Linked DNA regions of Homo sapiens: regions 1 and 3 are each linked to region 2. The links come from fine-mapping of genetic effects on gene expression. A gene starts in region 2. Each other region holds a variant in brackets. All regions are shown on one strand. Distances are from middle to middle.

The links. PIP is the estimated chance that this variant, and not a neighbour inherited with it, causes the effect.
Region 1: its variant is the best candidate, but not a certain one, in a credible set for the expression of FASTK in fibroblasts (GENCORD, PIP 0.77).
Region 3: its variant is the best candidate, but not a certain one, in a credible set for the expression of FASTK in anterior cingulate cortex (GTEx, PIP 0.68).

The regions. Positions count from the first base shown.
Region 1 is chr7:150,985,932-150,993,209 of GRCh38, forward strand. NOS3 (nitric oxide synthase 3) reads left to right here and starts at 5,086. Exons shown (of 27, transcript NM_000603.5): 1 at 5,086-5,369. RefSeq lists enhancers at 2,461-2,501, 3,008-3,167, promoters at 4,438-5,306, 6,248-7,278, 6,815-7,278, a cis regulatory region at 6,308-6,328 and a silencer at 7,045-7,075. The variant G/A (reference allele first, on the strand shown) is at 4,748.
Region 2 is chr7:151,076,782-151,082,905 of GRCh38, forward strand. FASTK (Fas activated serine/threonine kinase) reads right to left here and starts at 4,028. Exons shown (of 10, transcript NM_006712.5): 1 at 3,904-4,028; 2 at 2,719-3,141; 3 at 2,061-2,240; 4 at 1,781-1,920; 5 at 1,098-1,311; 6 at 840-999; 7 at 529-620; 8 at 320-455; 9 at 132-246; 10 at 1-51. The coding sequence starts at 3,985. TMUB1 (transmembrane and ubiquitin like domain containing 1) reads right to left here. Exons shown (of 3, transcript NM_001136044.2): 2 at 5,394-5,812; 3 at 4,304-5,119. The coding sequence starts at 5,782. The coding sequence ends at 4,768. RefSeq lists enhancers at 1-418, 419-1,394, 2,371-3,347, 3,348-4,323, 5,041-5,335 and silencers at 221-300, 3,763-4,442.
Region 3 is chr7:150,913,590-150,920,867 of GRCh38, forward strand. No RefSeq gene overlaps it. Among named protein-coding and RNA genes, the nearest start is that of KCNH2, 61 kb to the right of the region's middle. The variant G/A (reference allele first, on the strand shown) is at 3,298.

The sequences.
Region 1 (7,278 bases), 90 kb before region 2:
GAATGCTTTGACTTCAGGGTCTGAAGGAATCGTTTTAAGGCCAGAAGGATAAGGGAAGGCTTCACAAGGGAGGAAGGCTTCGCAAGGGAGGAAGGCTTAGGGAGAATTTGGCTGAGCTGAGAATTGTGGTCAGGACCTCATCTCTGTCCCTCTGGGGGACCAGCAGTCCAGTGCAGGGCCAGACAGAGCCAGTGAGGGTGTGAAGGTGACGGCAGAGGCCTATTGCAATGCTGGGGCGCTAAATGTCCAGGAAGAGCGCATTCGATCTTTCCCGGCTGAAGAAGAACAGGCCCTGAGAGCTCCCCCTTCTGGATCCGCGCAGCAGAACAACATCTCCTCTAGGAAGTGGGCTCAGCAGTGCCCGGCTCAGCAGTGCCCGGCTCAGCAGTGCCCGGCTCAGCAGTGCCCAGCGCAGACGGGGCTGGTGCTTAGGAAACCAGACGACAGACTGGGAACCCCATTTCCTGGGAGCCCCTCGGAAGCCTCAGGTCATCATCAACAGCAAATATGTCAGGGACGCCTCTGGGAGGTCACTGGGAGTCGGGCATGTAATCCATTTGGGGAGAGCAGGAAAAAAGACAAGTCACCAATGACTGAAGGTTCTCCAGGGCTTGAAGTCAGGATTTCCACATCTCACAGATCAGCAGGGGGCTCTAAAGGCTGCTCCTCCCACCCTGGTCTGGAGAGAGGGCCCAGCCCCTCCTGGGGGCACCTGAGAGGGTTCTGTCCAGACGATCCCAGTGACAGTTGCTGTGGAATTTCCATGCTGGGCACACTTGAGGCCCAAAGCTCCGATTCCCAAGAGGCGCCACAGCAACCATGCCAGGAAACTGGGCCAGGCTGAGGGTGGCAGGAGAGGGAGACAGGAGGAGGCAGGAAGGGGGCAGGGCCTGTCAGATGGATCCCTGACAACCATCCGTCTCAAGTCCGAGGTAACCTTATATCTTTGCCTCAGCAGATAGGATGACTTTGTATGTAGGGCCTTCAGAGCCCAAGACAGGGCACCTATGGTGAGCATTCAGGAGGCCTCAGCCTGCCCCTGAAACCCCCTCGTTCTCACTCTGGATCCCCGGAATAAAGGACAATTTCGGCCAGGCGCTGTGGCTTACGCCTGTAATCCCAGCACTTTGGGAGGCCGAGGCGGGCGGATCATGAGGTCAGGAAATCGAGACCATCCTGGCTAACACGGTGAAACCCCATCTCTACTACAAATACAAAAAAATTAGCTGGGCTTGATGGCGGGAGCCTGTAGTCCCAGCTACTCGGGAGGCTGAGGCAGGAGAATGACGTGAACCCGGGAGGCGGAGCTTGCAGCGAGCTGAGATCACGCCACTGCACTCCAGCCTGGGCAACAGAGCGAGACTCCATCTCAAAAAAAAAAAAAAAAAAAAGGAGGAAATTTCAAGTTCCCACGGATGGGAAAGCCTTCATATCCACACAGATGCTCTTGGCCCAAATTAGCTTTGGAGGGGCAGGGCCCAGATGAGGAGGCTGGTCAGTGAGGGAGCCCAGGATGCACAACCCATGGACAACTGCAAAACTGTGAGGGGGGGAGCTCCCCAGCTGGGGAGCAGGGAGGGGGCACAGGGAGATGCTGCCCCGCCCTCAGGTGGGCTCCCTGGGGCAGAGCCTGGTGAACCTCTTCCAGAGACGCTTCTGCCTCCTGGCTGACAGACCCAGTGACCTGGAAACCCAAGACCTTACCCTGGCAGTGGCAGGGGTCTGCCAGCCTCTGGGGGCTCTTGGGAGTCTGGACCAACTTCCACCTTCCCAAGGGAAATGCAAGAATCTCCAGGCCTTGATCAACCTTCAGGTTTAGATTCTTCCTTCAACACCACTGCCCTGAGTGTGTGTGTGTGTGTGTGTGTGTGTGTGAGAGAGAGAGAGAGAGTGCACGTATGCATGGATGTATGTGTGTGTGTCCGTTTGTTCAGGCTGCTGTAAGAAAACACCAAGGACCGGGTGGCCTAAAGACAACATAAATTTATTTCTCACAGTTCTGGATGCCGCAGTCTAAGATCAAGGTGCTGGCAGATTCCATGTCTGGTGAGGACCCACGGTTCATAGACAGTGCCTTCTCACTGTGTCCTCACATGATGGAAAGGTCTGGTGAGGACCCATGTTCATAGACAGCGCCTTCTCACTGTGTCCTCACATGATGGAAAGGTGAGGGATCTCTCTGGGGTTTTTTTCTTAAGGGCACGCATCCTATTCAGGAAGGTTCCTCCCTCACGATCTCAACACCTCCCAAACACCCCGCCTCCTAACACCATCACCTTGGGGGCTAGGATCTCAACTTATGAATTTGTGGGGAAATCAAACGTTCCCCGAAACATTTGTGTGTGTAAGAGAGTATGCATGGATGTATGTGTGTGTGACTGTGCATGCATGCATGTATATATGTGTATGTGTGTGCATGCATGCATGGATATATGTGTAAGAAAGTGTGCATGCATGCATGGATGTATGTGTGTGCGTGTACGTGTGTATGTGAAGATACCTCCTGAGCCTTCGGTTTGACACACCCCATGTGGTCTGTGCAGGAAGCAGGGAGGCGCAGATTTGTCCCAATCTGCTCCTCTGGGGGTGGGCCCAAATGAGCCACCTTGGGACCCCAGATGGCTGGTGTAGACCTACCACCCGATGCCGTTGGCTCCTTTCCTATCCCCTGGGTCTCCCCCTCCCTTCGTGGTGTCTGATCCCACGATTGTGCTGAAATCGCTCCTCCTCGGCTCTCTGCTGCCCTCATGTGGCTGTCTCAAGAAGGGCTGGGGCTACCAGGGGGCGCCCAGGATCAACACAGGAGCCCCTTCAGACCGGCAACCGCGTCCACAGCCCGGAACCCTCAGCATCCCAGAAGCCGCCCCAACGCCCTCACCAAAGGCTCAGCACCAATTCTGCAATCTGGAAGCTGAGCAAATCTCTCCGCCCCCCAGCACTCAGCATGAGTTACATCCTCGGGAGGGGGAGGCCTGGCGGCAGCTGCTCCCCGCCCCTCTCCCGCTGCTCCCGCCTCCCTTCCCTCCTTTCCCCGCTCCCCACCCGTCCTTGCCAGCAGGCAGGAAGGAAGCTGCTCATAGTGCAAGGGTGGGGTACTTCCAGCTCACACTGAACAGCCCCGGGCTGGGCTATAAAGAGTCAGGGACTTCCGCTCAGTCACCCCTGCCCTCACCACCCAGGCCCCCATGCACACACCCCAGGCCCAAGGCCTTCCCTTCCCAGCACAGCCCTCCAAGGTCAAGGCGTCCCCCGCCCAGCCCTGCAGAGCACTCTGGTCTGAGAGGGAAGGCAGGGGCAAGATTTGCCGCCTCTTTGGCATTATGGAGGGGGCAGGGGGCACAGGGCACAGCCCTCCCCAGGGAGGGATCCCTACTCACCCACAGAAGGCTGTCACCTTACCCCTGGGGTCTGGGCCAGCCCTCCCCGAGGCGGAAACACAGCCACTGTCAGGGACAAGGGGGCTCAGTTCCCAACCAGATCATCTCCAAAGCCCATTCAGCTTCAGATCTCATGATTGAAGATGGAAATTCTTTCAGCCGAACACCAAATCTCCAACCTTGAAAACTGTTTTTTCGGAAAGTCCTCTTTAAAACATGGTTACCAATATGAGCAGTCAGCCACTAAGATGCATGGGCATCATTCTTGGCAGGGCTGCAGGCATAGAGCAGGCCAGCACCAGGCAGAGCCCTGGGGACGGCAGGCCTCCTCCGACAGGCGGGGGAATCAACTGTTCTCATCAGAGCACCCTGATGGAAGGCAGGACACTCCGGACAACACTGGCCACGGCCCAAGAAAGGGGAAGCAGGGAATCCCCTGTCCAGAGAGCATTCATCTCTGACTTTTTCTGTCTGTTTAACTTTTTTTTTTCCTCCTTTTCTTAAGACCCTGCCATGGCATCCTCTGCCCCAATTCAAACCCAATCCAGGCCTACTCTGACCCTCAGCTTTCAGCGCTGACTGTACTGAACTGGACCCCATCCTCCCTGTGACCCTCAGCCTTCAGTGCTGGCTGTACTGAACTGTAACCCATCCTCCCTGTGGCCACAGAGTGCTCCTTCTTGCACTCCTCCCCTTCACCTAGACTGACTTCTTTCTGCCCACACAGACCCATCTAGCCTCAGCCAATTCCCTTCTCAGTGGACCCTCTCCATTGCCTCCAGAGCACAGCTTCCAGTCCCCAGGCGGCTGCACACATTTGCAACAAAACAAGCCAATGTATGAAGCAATCCCACTCAGTGCAGGAGCTCAACCCAGCAGAGGATCCCCACAGAGAGGAACTGACCTGTGTCTTCCAGAGCACACAGGTTCAGAGCACACAGGTTCATTTAAGTGAGAACCCACACTTACAGAGCAAGCTGCCCAAAAACCACGACCAGGAGGGCCCAGAGAAAGAGCTGTCCCCGGGGCCTTGGGGACAGGGTGACAGCCACCCAGAGATCATGGAGAAGGGGACGTAAGGAAGACCTCACAGAGGAGTCATCCTGCGACTGTGTTGGTTGGGTCCTTCAGGAAGCAGAGTCCCAGGAGTTGGAAGCATAAGAGGAATACTGCGGGCAATGCCTGAGAAAGATAACAGGGACCGGGAGCAGGAGTGAGTTGGGCAGGGGAAGGATCAGGCCCACAATGCCAGGCTCACACCTGCAGAGGAGGGAAGAAGAAGAAGGGCCTCACATCAGCCCAGCGGGGGATGTTACGCCCACAGACGCCCCGGGGCTCAGTTACTGTCTAAGTGTTAGAAATAAATTTTC[G/A]GTGCCACAAAAGAAATAGCACTCAGATATAAATGTTCCCAGCAAGGCAATTTTACTTCTATAGAAGGGTGCATCTCACAGATGGAGCAATGGCAAGAGCACACCTGAACAAGGGAAGGGAAGGGGTTTTTATCCCTAAGGCAGGTAGCCCCTACAGCTGTGTTGTTCCCCTATTGGCTAGGGTTGGACCACACCGTCTGAGCTAATTGTTACTGGCTATTTTAAAGAGAGCAGGGGTAAGAGCCGGATTGGCAGGGTAAGTAGTTTGGCAGGAAGGACGGTCACAGAACAGGTGACTCAGGATGACTCAGGTCAGAGCAGGTGACCAGTGGTGACTCAGTTCGGAGCAGGTGATAGAAGCTAGGAGGGGGTTGTTTACTGAAACTAGGGGCAAGGAGACGAAGAGAACATGAAAGTTAAACTTTAAGATGAAGAACAAAGCTGAACATACTGATGCATTGGATCTTTGGAGAGGATCTCAGAACTCATTGTACTTAATTTACAGGCTAAAACCTTAGAAGAGGAATTTATTATATCCTACACAAGACTCCAGGGAAGCACATGGCCTTGGACTGAAGGCTGGCATCTGGAAGCTGTCAGCCACCAGCACCTTCTGCAGCAGGTACCTGCTCTCTAAGAGGGAGGCCTGGGTGGTGCACCTCCAGAGCTGCCCAGGCTGGGCCTCAAGGAAGAAAAAGATTTTCATTTGTCAGAGGCGGAAGGGAGAGGTGGAGGGAACAGCACAGCAGCGGCCCAGGGGCAGGGAAGCACAGGACCATTAGGGAGACACGAGAAAGCCCATTTGTCTAGAACAGAGGATTCAAGCAGTGCACCAAGGAAAATGAGGGCCAGGCCAATGTGCTGGAGTGGCTTTGTTCTTGGCTGAGGGTTTTGGGTAGTGCCAAAGCGTAAGGTAAGCCCTGCTTTCCAGAAGAATCTAGCAGAGTGTGGAGCCCAGATGGGACTGGAAGGCCTGGGAGGGGTCAGGTGGCCACAGGGACGGGCCACAGCCAGTGGTGCAGGCAAGAAGACAATGGCCATCCATGGTGGCTCACACCTGGAATCCCAGCCCATTGGGAGGTCGAGGCAGGTGGATCACCTGAGGTCAGGAGTTCGAGACCAGCCTGGTCAACATGGTGAAACCCTGTCTCTAATAAAATTATAAAAATTAGCCGGGCGTGGTGGTGGGTACCTGTAATCTCAGCTACTCAGGAGGCTGGGTCAGGAGAATCGCTTGAACCCAGGAGGCGGAGGTTACAGTGAGCTGAGATAGCACCATTGCATTCCAGCCTGGACAACAAAAGCGAGACTCTGTCTCAAAAAAAAAAAAAAATTAGCCAGGCGTGGTGGTGGGTGCCTGTCGTCCTCGGGAGGCTGAGGCATGAGAATCACTCCGGGAGGCAGAGGTTGCAATGAACCAAGATCACACCACTGCACTCCAGCCTGGGTGACAGAGCAAGACTCTGTCTAAAAAAAAAAAAAAGACAGAAGGATGTCAGCATCTGATGCTGCCTGTCACCTTGACCCTGAGGATGCCAGTCACAGCTCCATTAACTGGGACCTAGGAAAATGAGTCATCCTTGGTCATGCACATTTCAAATGGTGGCTTAATATGGAAGCCAGACTTGGGATCTGTTGTCTCCTCCAGCATGGTAGAAGATGCCTGAAAAGTAGGGGCTGGATCCCATCCCCTGCCTCACTGGGAAGGCGAGGTGGTGGGGTGTGGTGGGGCCTCAGGCTTGGGGTCATGGGACAAAGCCCAGGCTGAATGCCGCCCTTCCATCTCCCTCCTCCTGAGACAGGGGCAGCAGGGCACACTAGTGTCCAGGAGCAGCTTATGAGGCCCCTTCACCCTCCATCCTCCAAAACTGGCAGACCCCACCTTCTTGGTGTGACCCCAGAGCTCTGAGCACAGCCCGTTCCTTCCGCCTGCCGGCCCCCCACCCAGGCCCACCCCAACCTTATCCTCCACTGCTTTTCAGAGGAGTCTGGCCAACACAAATCCTCTTGTTTGTTTGTCTGTCTGTCTGCTGCTCCTAGTCTCTGCCTCTCCCAGTCTCTCAGCTTCCGTTTCTTTCTTAAACTTTCTCTCAGTCTCTGAGGTCTCGAAATCACGAGGCTTCGACCCCTGTGGACCAGATGCCCAGCTAGTGGCCTTTCTCCAGCCCCTCAGATGGCACAGAACTACAAACCCCAGCATGCACTCTGGCCTGAAGTGCCTGGAGAGTGCTGGTGTACCCCACCTGCATTCTGGGAACTGTAGTTTCCCTAGTCCCCCATGCTCCCACCAGGGCATCAAGCTCTTCCCTGGCCGGCTGACCCTGCCTCAGCCCTAGTCTCTCTGCTGACCTGCGGCCCCGGGAAGCGTGCGTCACTGAATGACAGGGTGGGGGTGGAGGCACTGGAAGGCAGCTTCCTGCTCTTTTGTGTCCCCCACTTGAGTCATGGGGGTGTGGGGGTTCCAGGAAATTGGGGCTGGGAGGGGAAGGGATACCCTAATGTCAGACTCAAGGACAAAAAGTCACTACATC
Region 2 (6,124 bases):
GCTCTTGAGCTGGGGCAGGCCTCTCTGGGACTCCAGTTCCTCGAAGGGTAGCTGTGGGGAGAGGAGAGGGCGGCAGGTTACCCGCAGGCTGGGAGTGAGGATGCGCCACGGGCCAGGCCAGGGCCACTCACCGGCAGGAGCTGGTAGCCCATCAGGCCTAGGTGCCGCTCCCTCAGGGCCCTCGAGCCCAGCAGCACCCGGCCGTCCCGGCAGAAATGCCAGCGTTCCCGCAACACCAGCACCACCCTGCAGGGGGAGGGACGTGGCTCAGGGCATGGCGGGCAAGGTGGCCAGGGCTCCCCCACCCTGCCTCCTTTACCTCTGGGCAGGGTCTCGAGTAGTGGCGCTAGAGGCAGCCTGGCCCTGTGGGCAGGACCTTGGTGGGTATGGCAGGAAGGGGTCCTGGGTCCTCACGGGAAGCACAGCACCAGAGCTGCTGGCGCACAGCAGGAAGTCTGGAGGGGAGCAGGGCCGGCGGCCTTAGCCAGGGCTCCGTCTCCCCGGGCCTGCCGCCTGCCCCTTGCTCACCTGTGCAGTAGCCTGGAGGCACAGTCAGGTCCTGGCGGTATTTCTCCTCCCCCAGCAGCTGGCGCAACCCCTCAGCTACTATGTCCTTGTGACTGAGGAGAAAGGACACCAGTAGCAGGAAGGGCCCGGCACCTCATCCTAATCTGTCCCAGTCTAGTGCCACCACCCTGGGCAAAGCCCTCTGCTGCTTCAGGGCCCAGTTTTATGGTGGCCGAGAGCTCCTTAGCTTTGGCGCTTCATGGTCCCTCTGGCTTTTCCACTCTGCTGGTCCCAGGCTGGCCCCTCCCCTTGCCCCAGGCTGCCCCATCCACCTGTACTTGCAGCGGGCACGGTCGGTGATGAGAGGCTGGGGAAAGATGGGCACTTGCTGCCTTCGGGGAAGGCGGGGACCCCGGTATCCTGGGAGCTCCAGCTCCACGGCCGTGTCCAGCAGGGAGAGGTAGCGACGCACAATCAGAGCATGAGGGGTGCCTGTGGGGAGGCGGGGACTGGGGCTCTGGGCTGCAGGCCACCCTGCTCCCCTGCCTCTCCAGCCCTCAGGGGCCCAGCCAGCCATCCTGGCTGCGTACCACTGATGTAGTTGATGAAGCCAGGGGAAAAAACAAAGTGCAGGGCTCTGAAGGGCAGGCACCGCAGTTGGCACAGTGACATCAAGATGTTGACTGTAGCCAGGGGTGCCACCCCTGCTTCCCGAGCCAGGATCCTCTCAAGGCAGGGCATAAACTGCTGTTCCAGGGGCAGGTAGTTCAGTCGCCCAAAGGGCAGGACCAACTTCTGTACCACCTGTGGAGGAAGAGCAGTTCATTACCCAGTGTCAAGTATTTCTGCAGTCATCTTTTACAAGCTAAGCCTTAGAGAGGCTTAGCCCTCAGGTTTACAACACTGCTGTAAAGACAGGACAGTCCCTCCGGCCTCACAGTTCAACAGCAAAGCAGTCACGAGCTGCACGTGACTAATCACCAGACAGGCAGAGGGGACATCGCTGTGGGGTCTGGCCCTGAAGACTTCGAGAGGGATGGGTGGAGCTAGGATGCTGCTAAGAGTGCTTTGGGAAACTGCAGATTTCCAGGAATGCATGCTGCTGACAGGAGGTGGGCAAGCCACAGAAAGGGTGTAGAAAAGATGCAGGTCCCAGGGGACAGAGAGGGTGTGTCTGCTTCAGGAAAAGGATAGCCGAGCTGCACGAGGCGCTGGGCCTGACAAGGTCCCTGAGAATGACAGAGATGCACTGGAGGGTGGGTGGCAAGCCCACCTTGCTGCTGAGTTGCGTTTCCTGAACCACCAGGAAGTGGGCAATGGCTTCCAGAAGCTGGGGCTCCCGCAACCGGTGCCGGGCCAGGTGCTGGGCCAGGAGCACCATCACGTGGGGAGTCAGTTCCTCTGGCCTTGCCTCTGTGAAGAGCAGCCTGTCACGCTGGGCCTCAGCCGGACCTCCGGCTGGCTCAATTCCACCTCAGCCCAGCCAACTGAGCCCACCTTCCTCCTCCTGTCAGCCCTCCCCACCCCCATCTGATTTTAACCCCCTCCAGCACCTGCCAGGCTGCTGATCAGATGCTGCCGTGGATACCGCAGAAAACGGGGGCAGCTTAGAGCAGCTTCCAACCCTTGCCCACCTCGGAGAAGGGGCTGCAAAGGGGGAGGTGGCTTCGGAGGGAGGCGGAGCCTTCGCTCCTGTTCCAGGGCACACACCAGGGGACCATCAGATGGAAAGCCTGAGGGGGAGAGGTAAAAGGCAGCCTGGTAACAGAGCTGTGCTGCTGTTCTTATCATGGGGTTACTTGGTGAATTCTCCACCTTTCTCCTCTCCCGTTTCCTGAGCGGGAAGGTGTGCTAGAGTTTAAGTGCAAACACTAGAGACATGTAAAGTATCATGTGGCTATGAGGTATCGAAACGGTTTGTAGGGAGTACATACAAAGATGGCAAATAGGCTTTCATCTCATACCAATTGTGACAAATTATGGTGGCTTCCTAGGGCACTCTATTAGCAGGAATCTGGGGTGGCACCCTAGCGAGGCCGGAAGGAGTGCGTTCGACTCATGATGTCTGCCGCAGACATAGGACGGGAGCAGGAGCAAGCGTTCCTGGGCAAACGCCTGAGAGGCTGGGTCTCTGTCCGTGGTCCTCTACTGTTCTCCCTATTCTTCATTAACACCTAGCCCCCCAGGCGCCCACCTCAAGCCCCTCCTCACCAAGTAAGACTGCAAGGTGCAGACACACGTGGATGGTGTGAATGTCAAAGGAGGGGCAGTTTCGGATGATGAGCTGACTCAAGTCCTGCAGTGTGACCTGCTCCACAGGAGGGGGCCGTGGCCGAGACCCCAAGAGCTGGCCCAGACGACGAAGCGCCACCGAGTAGTGGTGGGCGCGCACCTTGCTGGGGTTCTGGCCCAGCCAGCGCAGCAGCTCCCCAGGGCTCTTCGCCTGTTCCAGAAGCCGCTGCAGTCCTTGCACAGGACCTGCACTGGGGCCTCCTCCAACAGGCCGGTCCCCCCATTTGCTGGGCCCCAAACAGCAGGGCTGTACTGGAGGGATCAGCAGCAGGCCAGACAGCCGAGCAGGGGAGGTCTGAGCAGAGAGCAGGACTCGAAGCATGGAGTTGGGTGATGGAGACCCTGAGGGGCAGCCCAAAAAAGGGGGTGAGGTTTTCTCCAAAGGGGAGAAAGACCTGCTACCTACTGCTTACCTCACTCCTCATTTAGGGGGCCTGTGGTCAGAGCAAGCCTTTGTGACTGCTCTGGGCCTCTTCCCCACCCCGCCCCTCTGCCTCCTTCCACGCCTTTGAAACAGCAATCATAATCCTCAGTGCGCTCAGCGCAGCACTACTTGCAAAGCAATTCCACATGCACCATCTCTGATGCTCCTTACACGCCCATGAAGAGTAGGCAGGGCTGGCATTACCTCATTTCACCGGTGGAGAAACGCAGGCCCAGAGCAGCGAAGGGGTTAAGTTAAGCCCGAGGTCATTAACCGGGTTAGTGGTCGCGCCCAGTCTGGAGCCCAGGCGGCACCGGCGTGCACTCTCCCGACCACCTCCCTCTCCCACAGGAGGCGGCGGCGGCACAGAGGGTGGAACGCGGGCTCCGCGGCTGGACGGTGCTGGGTTCCATGCTGGGCGCTCCCACTCACCAGCGGCGTGACCTTGGACAAGTGGCTTCGTCTCTCTAAGTCTCCTCACCCGTGAAATGAAAACGCAGCGCCCACCTCGCAGGGCGCGCGTGGAGCCCGAGTGCACCGCTTTGCGATGGCGCGGAGTCGGCGAAGTCGGGGGCCCCAACACCCACCCCGGCCCAGGGACGCCAGGAGACCGTGGCCGCTGCCGCTAACACCAGCTCCCGCTGCCCTCCCGCAGCCCTCCCCGCAGGCGCCACCCCTACATGACTCCCCGGGCCCTGCGCAGGTCGCTCCCTCAGTCGGTCTCGGGGCCCGGGGGCCGGGTTCCCCCCGCGGCCTCCTCATCGGCTAGCCACCGAGTCCGCCATCTTCCCAGCAGCCCCTAGATAGCCGCCCGGACGCCAATCCCGAAGCAGCTATCGGTCTTCGGAGACGTGGCTCCCGGCAGGCACTGCGAGCCAGGGAGCCGCGAGCCCCGCCCGCGGGAAGTGCGCGCCCGGCGCCGAGGGCGGGGCCACGGAGGCCGGCGCCAAAGCCAGAGCAGAACGCTGGGGAGAAGGGAAGGCGGAGGGCCAGACCCCAGGCGCAGTCCGTGCCCTTCTCTCCCAAGGGGCGAGGACTCCCCGCCCGCCAGCCCGCACACACTCAGACACACTGCAAGAGTGAAAACTTCACAGTTACTTTAATCTGCACGGGTTCCGGGGAACTCCTCTGCCCCTCCCCGCTCCCCTTCACCAGCCTCCCACCGACCTGGCGTCCCCAACTCAGCCCAAGGAGCTGTCAGGGATTGGAGGCGGCTGGGTCCTCCGGCAGAACACTAAGACGGGCCCCCGGGGCGGCCCGGCTCTGCCCGGGGCCGAGGCAGCGACAGCAGATGCCCGACCCCGAGGAGCCCACTCCCAGTGCGGGCTGAGGGTCAGCAGCCCCGGGAGGTGGCCCCGAGCCCCGGCGGTCGCAGGGCGGGGCCTCCGCCAGTCCCGGGAGTCCTCTGCGGCGCAGGGCTGGGCTCCAGGGCGGCGGGAAGAGGCAGGCCGGAGAGGCGGGCCTGGGCAGGCAGCAGCTCCCGCCGCGGCGCGGGGAGCAAGGTCCGGAGGGGCCGGCGACGCTGCCAAGCGCCCGCGGAGGCACTACGGGCGGTACATGGCAAAGGCCAGGAGACTGAGGAGCAGGGTGAAGCCGGCCAGGCCCAGAGTGGCGGTCAGGGGAAAGAAGGGCCGGTACTGGATCTGGCAGTACCAGAGCAGCAGCAACAGCAGGAGCAGCAGGGGCAGCAGCAGGCTGCCGATTTCCAGCCCGGAGGGGCCGGGCTCGGACCCCGGCGGGCAGGGGGGATTTGGGGGACCGACTCTCGTGGACACGTGGCAGTGGAGAACGCAGTTGGGAGGGAGGTGAAGGCTGCCCAGGGTCTGGGTGTCGTCGCCTAGCAGCTGCCCTTGGTAGATGAGTCGCACCTGCTGTTCCCGGCCGGGAAACTGGGTCCTGAGGAGAGAGGGACCTGGGTAAGAGAGCAGGCCTCAGGCAATCCTAGTCCCTGGCCCCGGAACAGCACTCCCACCCTCCCCCTGCCCTCCACAACACACCGGCCCTGGCCTGGGAGGGGCCGTCTGCCAGGGGAACAAGTACAGTTGTGATCTGGGGCGCTCAGCGCCTCCAGTATAAAGGAGGGCTGGGTCTTAGGTGTCTCTGGGGGCCTTCTGCGACCACTCTCCCAACCCCTGTCTTTAGCATTGCTCCTGCCTCTTGACCTACTTACCTTTTCAAGGAGCCAATGGTGTCGTGGGGCCAGGCCCTGGCCACCTGCTCTGAATCATTGAGGAATTTCAGCCGTAGCACGAGGGGCTCCTGCGGGGAGTCCGGGGCTGGCGGTGTTGCTGTGAACCCCGTGCTGGGCTCTGGCTGTGCAGCTTGACCTCTGTGTCTCAGGCTGGGGGTCTCTGCCCCTGGGGCCTCCCCTCTCATGCTGTCGGTAGCTGCCATGGCTGCGCTGGGCTGGGATGGCGTTGGGGTCCCTGACGGCTGGGGCAGTGGGTCCCCGCCCTCAGCGGTGTGCGTTGAGACCCAGGCAAGGGCCAGCACCAGAAGGCAGGCAAGCACCGAGAAAAGGACGGTCACCTCATCACCCACCCCTTCAATCAGGGTCATGGCGCCTGCCTTGCCCGCCGCGCTACCGAGCTGGAGAGGCACAAAGAGCCCGTGAGGCCCGGGCCCCCTGGCCAGGAGCCCTGGAACCTCCACAGGGTCCTGCCCTCACCCCACCGCGACGCTCCCACCGTCCTCAGCCTCCGTCCCCTCACCCACCCCAGGGTACCGGCTTCTCTGCCTCCCAGTCGCCCCAAACTTGCCTCCGGGTGCCCCTTCCCATCGCCGAATCCCAAGTCCTAACTTTCTGTCATCTGAGCTCGAGGTCTTCAACCAGCTCCCAACTCACCCAAACCCTATCCCAAGGTAAGGGCCTAAGCAACGCCTCTCCTAAACTTCACCCCA
Region 3 (7,278 bases), 160 kb before region 2:
AAAAGGTTTTCTCCAGCAGGGCTTTACCTTTGTTATCGTGAAAAAGGATACACTCCCTATAAACTTCCGCCCACGTTGCATTGGCCAGAACTGTGGCACACAGCTCCCCTGAGCTTCAGGAGGGTCTGGAGGGTGAGTATTTTAGCTGGCATGTGGATTCTACTAACAGGGAAGAATGGAAAATAGATAACAGTGGCAACTGTCAGTGGTGCACAGCCTCCCTGGGGAATCGTTCTAGCAGAGAATGGTTCCTGCCCGCAATAGACTGATAGATGAACCAGGGTCCAGTGGATTCGTTCCCACTCCAACCACCAGAATGACCTTCCCACCAGAACACTGTCTTTCCCAGGATCAGAGAACTGGTACGTAAAATTGTTAAACTAAACATTGCCTGTGAACATGGAATTTGGTCCATGGCAGGTGCTAATATTGGAGGGCATCTCCCCAACGCTATGATATGGCCTGATGACTCTCCCTGCCCGAGACATCAGCGCTCCAGCATCCTGGATGCTCACAACACTCAAATTCCATGTCCCCCGGACAGTGCTGGGCAGACACCGTCAACATCCATCTCTCGGACTCCCCATTTTGTGGGTTGTCTATCCCCAAGTCGCCCTTCCTCTGCTCGCATTATTTATTTAGCTTTATTAAAGTCATGTCTGATTTACCTTTGGCCTAGAAGGCAACCTGTCTCCTGCCATTTGCATTGATTCTAGTAACCAAGCTCTCCTGGGGGCCTTTCTTTTGTCCCCACAGGGGCAGCCAAGTGTTAAGCTCTGCAGACTCATGAAGCCAGCGATGTTGGGCTAGTGAGGGCTCTCTCCCTGTGTCTTGCCAGCACCTCAAAATTCTATCCTCCCAGGAGTGGTTGCAGTGTTAAGGGCTGTTTTGCGCAGAGAAGAAAAGGTTGAGGGGACCCGAGCATTTGCCTAACATATCTGAGTCGTTGTCAGAGGCTGGGCTTATGGAGCAGCTGGAAGGAGAAGCAGGACCAACAGATGCAAGGCACTAGAAGACAGATTTCGCCTACAACAGGCACTGTCCAGCGAAGTCAAGCATGCTCTGTTCCTGGACAGGGGTCCATCCATCTGGGCTGTGGTGGAGGGGATTTTCATTTTGCATGGATTCAAAGGAACATTCCAGCAGTAAGGAAAGTACATTCACCACCACTCCAGGTTCAATCCCCCAGAGTTTTAAATTTCTCCCATCTTTTTCTGGTTTCCCTTCTCCTTCTGAGAAATTTAGACATCTTTTTTTAAAATGTCCTTACTGCCAGCCTCTCCATCACATTCCTGGTCCCAATCCAGACCTGAGTGTGGAAGTGTGAACCCCCTTTTCTAATAGGACATCTGAGGCCACCATGGGATTTGCTAAAGGAATTGTTATGGGGTTCTCATTCAAAGGAAAATGCAAAATGTTGTCATGTTTGTGGAGTAAAGAACTAAGATACGTGAGTCAGCCCGTCAGTCTCCCTCATGTTTCCTGGCCTCCCATGCATTTCAATGGGGCCATGAAACTGGCTCCAAGCAAAGCTCCAAGCTGGTGTGTCTCTTCGGTCACCACCTGGTAGCCACTCTCCACATGGCAGCCACTACAGAGGCCGCCTGCTGAGAGGGCAGAGTCACAGGATGTGAGCCCCTCGACCTCTGTCATGGCAGGGAGGAGCACTGCCTGGGACCTTGCCCTAATGAGAAATAAACCACGGTTGAGGTTTATTTCTTAACCATGGTTAAGGTTTTGGAGTTGGCTTACTACAGCAGTGAGCATGGCTTAACCTAACTAAACACTTGCCAAGCTTTTCACATATCCTTTAAATTGCATGACCACATATGGGGAGATCCTGTCACTAACCACTTTACAGGTACAATAAATGAGGTCCTTTAAGCAATGACTCTGAGGTCACACAGCCAGCACATGTTGGAGCTCATATTTGAACCCAAGTCAATCCAACTCCAAGGCAAATGTTTTCCCCACTCTATACTAACTCCCTTTCTTCAAAGAGGATAGTCCCAAATTAATTCTGTTGACTGGGGATTCTTTTTCCTCCCCTAAACCCCATCTAGAGAACTCAACCCAAAAGAACTTCTTTATATGCTCAAAGCTCTCCTCTATACCTCGCTCCTGTCCACTCTGCAAGCCCCTCAGCCAAGAGACAGCTGGAGGAGCATCCTCCAGCTAGAGAAAACATGACCACACACCCAGGCCTAGGCCACGCACGCCCGGGCCCCTTGCTTCACCACACAGAAAGCTGGAGGCTGTTTCCCACAAATACAAGTTGACCTAGAGGACATGTAAGTCCCATTTTAATGTCCAAGTGCTAGAATTTCATGAAGTAGCTGAAAAGTTATGAGGGCTCAAGTGTAGCAACAACAGTGGGATGAACTGGGTCAATCAGGGAGGGAAGGACACCTGGATCTGAGAACGCTGATCAGGGAGGTGAAGGACAGGCTGGAGATGCAGGCAGTGCTGACCAGTGGGGAAATGCCAAGTCTGGGATCTCAGAAGCCTGATGCAGCTAAGGCCAAGACAGGATGGAGTTCAGGTATGTCTACAGCGAGGTGGAGATGGAGGGAGCCTGCAAGTTATGCTCACCATAATGTGTGTGCCCCAGGAATGGAGTGACGAGAAGTCAGGATCATCCAGGAGAGGGGGTAAGGCCAGAGGGCACCAGCCACACAGATTGTTGGGACTGTGTGTTGCAAGGGATGGCGTGCCTTTGAAGTGGAGTGGCAGAGGGTGGGGTGCGGGAGCGAGCGCAGGTCACAGTGCCTCCTGTCCTCCTAGAGTGGAGAGAAGTTGATTCTCTAAGAAGGGGAGAGAGCAGTTTGGATCCTATGGTGTGAGATGGCTTTCCCCTTACCTTCTTGGAAATTGCCCTGGACCATCGAGCAGAAAGGAAAACCAAAACACAGTGGCCATACCTGATGAAGCTAGGAGACAGATAGGTCTCTGAACAATATCCTCTCCAAATGGAGTGAAGACTGCGCATGCAGGATGAGAGGAGAGAGTCCTTGGCAGTGGTGGCTCAGGAGGATGAGGGTGCAGCCCAGAGAGAAAACCTGGGACTCCTCACTTCCAACAGTGGAGGCAGACCCCAGGGGGCCTCCCAAGACCGAATCGGATCCCAAGAAGCAGAGGCGGGTGAAGGTGCAGTCACACTGATGAGCGCTTTTTGTAGGAAGCAGTCTGTCCAGAGGACCCATGGAGATGCGCCACCCAAACCCTGCTTTGAGGAAGGACCTGTCCCACCTTCTGCAAGTGCCATCAGGGGCGACCTCGAGCTGTCAGCCTCGCCAG[G/A]GCTTCTTCAGCTGAGGACCACTGCTCATCCAGGTCACATCAGCTTGTGTGCAACCCATATCCAAAGACTAATGGAAGCAGAAGTATCAAAGTTCACCACATCTGCCCAACCCCAGACAACTCTCTTGTTCCTTTCGGCCCCGGACCTCCTCATGGGTGAGCAGAGGCTGTCAGGCTGCATCCCAGCCCAACAACTGCCTCTGCCCATTCCTGCTTCCCCTCCTCCCTTCCTCAGGCATTGACCCAAGGGCACATATAATAAGCATCCTAATCCAGACTGTGACCCCTGAGGCAGCAGAAGAGTGCCCCCGCCAAGATGTCCTCATTATAATCTCCAAAACCTGTGAACACGCTACTTTACTTGCCAAAAGGGACTTCGCAGGTATGATTAAATGAAGGATCTTGAGATGCTGAGATTAGCCTGGATTTTCCAGGTGGGCCCAATGTAATCACAAGGGTTCTTATGAGAGGCAGGAATGTCCAAGAGAGAGATCTGGAGATGCTGTGTTTATGCATTTGAAGATGGAGGACCAGGCCATAAGCTAAGGGATGTCGTTGACCTCCAGGCACTGAAAAAGACAAGGAAGTGGATTCTCCCCTAGAACCACCAGAAGGAACATAGCCCTGCAAACATCTTGACACCACTTTATATCTTACAGTTCTGGAGATCCAAAAGGGGTCATAAATCATTTTGCCCACTATGACCCCTTTTGGATCTACAGAACTGTAAGATATAAAGTTGTGTTATTTTAAGCCAAATGTGCATTGTTCTAAGTTTGCAGTGTTTGTTACTACAAATATGAAAGTAATACACACCCTAACGCAACAGCAGAAGAAAGACTTTGCATTGCAGACAGCTCTACACCTTCCTATCCCTGCTGAGCGGAGAAAAGAAAAAGTTTAAACAAATTCTGTTTTTTAAAATATATGTATAATTCACAGGTTCATTTGTGTCAGCCTAGAATGGCCCCGGCCCCTACCTCTTACGAACCTCCTGCAAATATCTGGTCCAAGAAAAACTTGTCTGCATCAAAGAAGGATAATATTTAGATCTATACACAATCTATACAAAAATATTATAGACTAAAAATGAGAGAAAAATGGCAGATAAAAAACACTTGTCAAAAATGTGTTGCAATGAACAGATGAAAAGCATATCCAAATATTTTGCCATGAATTTTTTAAACTTAAGTAACAGCTCAAGAAAGAGATGGTGAGAAAACAGAAGGATATGAAAAGAAAGCTGGCAAAACCCAGGAAAGAGTAGAATCAAAATTTAAATCATCACAAAAATGAAGACAAAACTGGAAGCAGCACGAGAAAGTACTTCGGAACCCAGAAGGGGGAAACGGATTAGACGGGCGAGCGAAATGAAAGGCAAACAAAGAGAGAAAGTGACAGCTATGAAGGAAGGCAGAGGAGCTGCAACTCCCACAAAATTGGAATGCACGAAGAAGAAACACAGCCACAAAACAAATATTTTAAACAATAATTCATGCACAGTTCCCTAATGAGACAAGGCACTTTTTCATGTTTCTTGGCCATTTGGCTGTCCTATTTTGCAATGTGCTTGTTCTGTTCTTTTACTCATTTATTTTTCTATTGATTCCAGTGCCTTTTTCATGTTGATTTGTAAGGACTCTGTACATTCTGAATAGGAGTCTTTTGTAGGTTATGTGCACTGCACATACCTTCTTCCCCTCTGTGATTCAGCTTTTTTTCCTCTCAGAGATGTTTTGTTTTGTTTTGTTTTTTGTTTTAGGCAGAGTCTCACTTTGTCACCCAGGCTAGAGTGCAGTGGCGTGATCTCGGCTCACTGCGACCTCCACCTCCCGGGTTCAAGCAATTCTCTTGTCTCAGCCTCCGGAGTAGCTGGGATTACAGGCATGCGCCACCTCACCCGGCTAATTTTTGTATTTTTAGTAGAGACGGGGTTTCCCCATGTTGGTCAGGCTAGTCTCAAACTCCTGATCTGAAGTGATCTGCCCGCCTCAGCCTCCCAAAGTGCTGGGATTACAGGCGGGAGCCACCCCACCTGGCCATACAGATGTGTTTTTAATAAACTTCTATTTTCGAATAATTTTAGGTTTACAGAAAAGTTGCAAAGATAATGCAGAGTTCCACATAGGCTTCACCCAGCTTCCCCTAACGTTAACATCTTAAGTTACCACAGTACATTTGTCAACACTGAGGAACTGACAGTGGTGCAATACTATTAATTAAACGAAACACTCTTCACCACTCTTTCCATTCATGTCCTTTTGCTGTTTCGGAATCCAATCCCGGTCACTGCGTTTCACTTCATTGTCATGTCTCCTTAGGTTTCCTCCTCCCGCGTGTGACCATTTCTTAGTCCTTTTTTAGGATCTTGACACCTTTGAAGATTAAGTATTTTGTAGAATGTCCCTCATTTTGGGCTTGTCTGATGTCTTTGGACGATTAGACTGGGCATATGTGTTAGAGGCGAACCACAGACGAGAGGCGCCCTTCTCCTCACTTCATATCTAGGGCACGTGATCTCAGCATGGCTCATCATGGGGAATATTAGCTTTGAGCATTTGGTTAAGGCTTTCCCACTGTAATGTGACTCTTCTGCCTTTTCCATATTCCGTTCTTTGGAAGCAAGTCCCTAAGTCTAGCTCATGCTGAAACTCATATTTCTGGAGGGAGGAGCGTCTACCTACTTTAGAATTCTTCTGTATGGAAGACTTATCCCGTCTTCCCATTTTATTTACATACTCAATCATGTATTTATATCAGTTTGTACTCACAGATATTTATTTTATTCTTTAGTTTATAATTCACTACTATTGTTATTTACTTTGCTGCTCAAATTGTTCCAGCTTTGGCCACTGGAAGCTCGTTCAGGCTGGCTCCTCTATCCTTGTGATATGTCCTTGTCATTGTGGGAATTTGTATGGGTACTCCCTAAAGATGTCTCTTGATAAACAGAAATTCTTCATTTTAGTGTAGTCATATGAACTAATGTTTTCCTTTAGATTTAGTGCTTCTAGTTTCCTGCTATTACTTTCTAAAGGTATTTTTTGTTTTGTCTTTCACAGACAGATTGTGATCAGGAAGCATCACACAGGAGCTTCTAGGGGGCCGGTGAGTTCGATTTCCCAACCTAGATGGTGGTTGTCTGAGTGAATCAAGTATGAAAATATAGGCACACTCACCAGCAAGAAATAGGACATGAGCAGCTAGAAGCGCAGGTGCAGGCTAAAGGAAGAAGAGGAAAGGCACTTGTGGCATAAATGGCAGGGGTATGAAACACAGAATCACAGTGGGCTCTGCTATGCTCCAGCGGCCCAGCTCTCCTTCCTTTTGGAAATTGCCCCTCACACAGCTTTGCATGGTTCAACTACACCACAGAGGAAGAATCACGTGGCACATGCCTGGTCATCCTAGATTAATTCAAGAAGGATGGGCACATGACCCAAGCAGGGCCAATTTTCCATTTGATGCTGCTGATTTAATTTTATTTCTTTTTCTTTAGAGACAGGGCCTCACTCTGTTGCCCAGTCTAGAGTACGGTGGCACTATCATAGCTCACTGCAGCCTCAAAAACTCCTGGGCTCAAGTGATCCTCCTACCTCAGCCTCCTGAGTAGCTGGGACTACACCCAGCTAATTCTGTTTTTTGTTGTTGGCGGGGGTAAAGATGGGGTCTCTTTATGTTGCCTAGGCTGGTCTCAAATGCCTAGGCTCAAGCAATGCTCCCACCTCGGCCTCCCGAAATGTTGGGATTAAAGGTGTGAGCCTCTGCATCCAGCCTGGTTATTTCTATTAAAGAGAAACAGGGCTTCCCTCATGAGAGCTGCATTTGTAAACATCACAACCTGGAGCTACCAGTCGCTTTCTTAAAGCCACAGAAAGATACTGCCAGAGAATGAACCCAACAAGAGTAAAGCAGAGCCAAAGTTGGCGACAGACTGAGCTCTCAGGACATCAGTTGATCATGTAAATCCAGCCTAACCTA